Linked DNA regions of Homo sapiens: region 2 is linked to region 1. Evidence: fine-mapped expression QTL. Tissue or cell type: skeletal muscle. Region 1 holds a variant in brackets; the other region holds the start of a gene. All regions are shown on one strand. Distances are between the middles of the regions.

Region 1 (2,682 bases):
GGGCGTGGTGGTGGACACCTGTAACCCCAGCTCCTCGGGAGGCTGAGGCAGGAGAATCGCTTGAACCCGGGAGGTGGAGGTTCCAGTGAGCTGAGATCACACCACTGCACTCCAGCCTGGGCAACAAGAATGAAACTCCATCTAAAAAAAAAAAATTGTTTTTTCTTTAAATATTAGCTGGGCATGGTGGTACACGCTTGTAGTCTAAGCTACTGAGAGGCTGAGGTGGGAGCATCACTTGAGCCCAGGAGGTCAAGGCTGCAGTGGGCTGTGTCCGTGTCACTGCACTTCAGCATGGGTGACAGAGCAAGACCCTGTCTCAAAAAAATAATAAATCTTTCCTAGACTTTTGTTTCCTCCCCTGTTGTTTCTCAGTTAATACTTTATTTCTTTTCTGTCATTTTAAAGATGTTTTTGGAAGGGAGAAGAGATAAACATTTATGGTCAGTTTACCATTTTCAGTAAGCTTCCCAGGTGATTCTGATACATACTGAAATGTGAAAATCACTGGTTCAGAAATTTAAGAGTACAGATTGGACCTAGGATAAGCTTTTGGCTGATTTTCAGGGATCTTTCTTTGTACTGTTATATCTTTGGATTAAATTAGGCCTTTGCCGCCTCTTTGACATTTAGTAGATCTGCATCACTTTTTCTGTTTTCTCTTGCTTTCCTCACCTTCCTTGTTCATAAGCAAACAAAATAAAACAAAGCACCATAATGGTGAAGAAAAAGCCTCTGTTCAAATCTTTATTGAATACCTGCTCTGTGCCAGGCCTTCTGCCGTGTGTTTAGTATATGATTATTAGCAAACAGACATAGCTCTTTCTCTCAAGTCTCATTAGCCTTTCCAGTTGATTGCATGGCTTTATATCATGTGTGGTATTTAGGGAAGAATATATTACCTTTCTGACCAAACTGGTTATATGTCTTATCAGAAAGTTATGTATACTTCTGCAGTCCAATTCAGATGCACACCATCTGGAGTTAGTGTCAGACTCCACAGGTTTAAGGGCACAGTTCTCAGCAAAACTGTGTTTACTTCAGATGCCAACAGCAAATTTTGGGGTCTTCAGGCCACCCGTATTTCTGACCAACTGGCTGCAGATCTGTAGGCTTCTATGACCCCTTCAGGTTTAATAATTCCCAGAATTACTCACAGAACTTAGGAAAGTGCTATACTTATTATTACAGTTTTATTATAAGGGAT[A/G]CAATTCAGGGCTGGGTGCAGTGGCTCATGCCTGTAATCCCAGCACTTTGGGAGGCCGAGGCAGGTGGATCACCTGAAGTCAGGGGTTCGAGACCAGCCTGGCCAACATGGTGAAATCCCATCTGTACTAAAAATAGAAAAATTAGCTGGGCATGGTGGCGGGTGCCTGTAATCCCAGCTACTCGGGAAACTGAGGCAGGAGACTCTCTTGAACCCAGGAGGCGAAGGTCGCAGTGAGCCAAGATTGCACCATTGCATTCCAGCCTGGGCAACAAGAGCGAAACTGTCTCAAAAAAAGGGGGGTGGGATACAATTCAGGACCAGCCAAATGACATAGGGTGAGGTCCAGGAGCATCCTGAGAGCAGAGCTTCCATGCCCTCTCCTTGTGGAATAAGAGCATGTAAACACAGCACATTTATGTGTTTACCTACCAGGAAGCTCCAGTGAGCTGCTGTGTCCAGAGTTTTTAGTTGGAGTTTTATCTATGTAGGCATGATTGAACTCAATCACCCGTCCCTCTGCCTTCCCCATAGTAGATTAGGCTTAAAGCAGTTGATTTTTCTGGTGATCTGCATCCATTCTGAGTCATAGTATTGGCATAAATTTACTCATGATGGGATCTGGCCCACTCCTGTCCAATTCAGGAAATTCCAAGGGCTTAGAGGTTACAGGCCTCCCAGGAACCAGGTACAGAGACCAGACAAATTCTGTATTTTACAACAGAAATGCTGCCAGTTTTTAAAAACTGCCCTAGAAGACTTTCTCCGTCCTTGATTTGAAAGTTCATTAATTCTTTAGTTTTATACTCAAATCCTAAATGGCAAAATTTGTTTAGCTTCCTACCTTCATTGCAGTAGAACAACATTCACAGCCTCAAGGGTTGCTTCAAAAAAAGTTGATGTGGCTGGGTGTGGTGGCCCATGCCTGTAATCCCAGCAGTTTGGGAGGCCAAGGTGGGCGGATGGCTTGAGGCCAGGAATTGGAGACCAGCCTGAAAAACATGGCGAAACTCTGTCTCTACAAAACATAGAAAAATTAGCCTGCCGTGGTAGTGTGTGCCTGCAGTCCCAGCTACTCCAGGGGCTGAGGTAGGAGGATCACTTGAGCCTGGGAGGTGGAGGCTGCAGTCAGCTGAGATCACAGCACTGCACTCCAGCAGGGTCATAGTGGAGTGAATGGTGGAGACAGACTTGACATTTATTTTCCTAGGTCAAAGGTCGTGATAAACATATCAATAATTTGAAAAAGAAATGCCAGAAGGAATCAGAGCAGAACCGGGAGAAGCAGCAGCGTATTGAGACCTTGGAGCGCTACCTGGCTGACCTGCCCACACTGGAAGACCATCAGAAGCAGAGCCAGCAGGTAGCAGCAATGTCTTGGCATGCCTGGGGTGATCAGGGAGTGGCCAGGCAGGGGAACTTTTTCATCATCTGCTGTATGCAGTTATCCTGTGACTTGCTGAAAGGAGAATCCC
Region 2 (2,682 bases), 51 kb after region 1:
GGGATAAACATAACACCTGCTGCAGGGCACCACAGAGGGTATCAAGTGAGGGAATGCATAAAGCATGGAGCACTATCCAGGCAGCTGTGGGATTCCTCTCATCCCCCCACCCCTCCCTGGGCCCTCACAGCCACTCTCTCACCCCAGTCCCCTTCCACTGTAGCTTAGTCACCCACTTGTCCCTTCCCTCGCTCCCCTCCCATTCATCCTCAGCTAATACAAACAACCCATCTGCTTGCTACTTTCTCTACCAAAATCACAAAATTCTAGGTCTTGGCTGGGCGCGGTGGCTCATGCCTGTAATCCCAGCACTTTGGGAGGCCGAGGCAGGCGGATCACTTGAGATCAGGCATTCGAGACTAGCCTAGCCAACATGGTGAAACCCAGTCTCCGCTAAAAAAAAAAAAAAAATACAAAAAATTAGCCAGGCATGGTGGCACACACCTGTAGTCCCAGCTATGCGGGAGGCCAAGGCAGGATAATTGCTTGAACCCAGGAGGTGGAGGTTGCAGTAAGCCGAGATCATGCCAGTGCACAGAGCAAAACTCTGTTTAAAAAAAAAAACAAAAAAACCAACAACAACAAAACAAAACACTAGGTTTTAACAAACTTCAGAAATAATCTATTTCAGTCTTCCCAGTTCCTTGAAATGAGGAACTGAGGCCTAGAGAGGGAAAGCCCAACTGAAACCAGGCTTCCCGATTCCTCACCTCCAGCACCTTCACAGAAATCCACCAACCCTTCCACAATCTAAACATTTCCCAAGCTTTCATTCAGAACCTGCAGCCCATCTACAACCTTCCCTTGAAACATAAATCTATCCCAGCCCTTCTCCTTCAGCTCCTATACCCTGCCCCAATCTTCTTTAAACAACAAACTCATTTACGGAATATCTGCTATGTTCTGGCTCTTTTTAAATTGGTTATTATTACATGTAATCCGGCAGTTCTTTTGTTAAAGGGTCAGAGAGGTAGAGTTTCTGGCCCAGGGTCTCAGAGCTGGTCAGTGATTAAACCAGGATTCAGCCTGCAGGATGCATGATTCCAGGCCTTGGGCCCTACTTACTCCCACCGTTGCCTCTGGATTGACCTCTCTCCTATCTTGTACGATCTAGCCTGCTCCCCCAGCCAGGGCCTTAGAACCTAGAGCCTGGTATTATCCACCCCCAGATCTGCAGAAAGGAAGCCACACCCCTCCTCCACCTTGTAAGCCCTCCTTCCTCTCCCTACCTCACCCCGCCTCCTCTGCCTCCTGGTTCAAAAGCAGCTAAACCAAAAGAAGCCTCCAGACAGCCCTGAGATCACCTAAAAAGCTGCTACCAAGACAGCCACGAAGATCCTACCAAAATGAAGCGCTTCCTCTTCCTCCTACTCACCATCAGCCTCCTGGTTATGGTACAGGTAAGAGCAACGCCTGGCACCACTGCCAGGACTCCCCAAAGTTGCTTGGCATGGAGGGAGGGCATACAGGATGTGAGCTCCCAGAGACCCAGCCTTCTCTCCTGAGAGCACAGCAGATGGACTCCAACAGGAAAACTGGGGACACAGCGGGCCTGGCCGCCCAGCCTTCCAGCTCTTCTGGCTGGGGCTGCACTGCTTGCGGGCTGCCCTGAGAGAAACCTGTATCCACAGCTGGGGAGCACTTACAGGGTGCTAGGCGCGTTGGGGCACCCAAGGGGTGTTGTGGAATAATAGAGAACTAAGAGACTTGGGAAGACAACCCTGAGTGAGGAAGGCATCGGCCCACAGGGAGTCTGGGGAGATGGTCCTTTGGGGAGAGGCCAGGAGATGTCCAAGTGGAGCCTGCTGTGGTTATGGAGGTGACAGGGGACACTCTAACCCCCACTCCCCTGCCAGAGAGAAGCCTGGATGTTCAGGAATGCAAAGAAGACAGGACTCTCCCATTTCAGAAACAACTGGAGTCTCAAAAGCGACTGCTATTCCAGGAGGCAGCTTTGGTAGCATCCCAGGTGCCCAGAGGGGAGTCAGTACAGCAGACCGGAGCCATCAAGTTCTTGATCAAGAACAGCTTGATCACCATCAAAACCAGCTTAATCTCCATCAAGAACAGTTCTAGTTGCAGCTCCATCAAGCATTAAGGACAGCTCGATCACCATCTGGCCACTTCCCCACCCCACATCCAGCCACCCACGCTTTGCCAAGTGCTTTCTCACTCAGCCCTGGCTCATGTGACCTTCACAACTGTGATGAACTTCTCCCCACTCAGAAGATGAAACTGAGGCTCAGGGAAGCTAAGCCCTTTGCCAGGCTAGGAAGGTCAAGGGCCAGGGCTCCCCTGTCTCCCTCTATGCCAGAAGGGCTGGTCGCTGGGGAAAGGTGAAAAGAAAGGTTCTGTGACCGGGCACGGTGGCTCACGCCTATAATCCCAGCACTTTGGGAGGCCGAGGCAGGCGGATCACCTGAGGTCAGGAGTTCAAGACCAGCCTGGCCAACATGACAAAATCCCGTCTCTACTAAAAATACAAAAATTAGCTGGGCGAGCCGGGCGCGCTGGCTCGCGTCTGTAATCCCAGCACTTTGGGAGGCTGAGGCGGGTGGATCATGAGGTCAGGAGATCGAGACCATCCTGGCTAACACATTGAAACCTCGTCTCTACCATAAATACAAAAAGAAATTAGCCGGGCGTGGCGTGGTGGCGGGCGCCTGTAGTCCCAGCTACTCG

Direction of the effects. Positions count from the first base shown, and alleles are read on the strand shown. Sizes are in standard deviations (SD) of each study's normalised expression.
As copies of A replace G in region 1, the expression in skeletal muscle of the gene that starts at base 1,287 in region 2 goes down (large effect, 2.1 SD a copy in FUSION).

Evidence for each region. PIP is the estimated chance that this variant, and not a neighbour inherited with it, causes the effect.
Region 2: CD52 starts here. The variant in region 1 is fine-mapped to the expression of CD52 in skeletal muscle (FUSION, PIP 0.95).

What each region holds. Positions count from the first base shown.
Region 1 is chr1:26,266,066-26,268,747 of GRCh38, forward strand. It overlaps CEP85 (centrosomal protein 85), which reads left to right. Exons shown (of 14, transcript NM_001319944.2): 8 at 2,418-2,570. Among named protein-coding and RNA genes, the nearest start is that of SH3BGRL3, 13 kb to the right of the region's middle. The variant A/G (reference allele first, on the strand shown) is at 1,208.
Region 2 is chr1:26,316,672-26,319,353 of GRCh38, forward strand. CD52 (CD52 molecule) reads left to right here and starts at 1,287. Exons shown (of 2, transcript NM_001803.3): 1 at 1,287-1,400. The coding sequence starts at 1,347. It also overlaps a transcript of UBXN11 not described here. RefSeq lists a silencer at 1,077-1,269 and enhancers at 1,344-1,413, 1,544-1,693, 2,067-2,682, 2,194-2,293.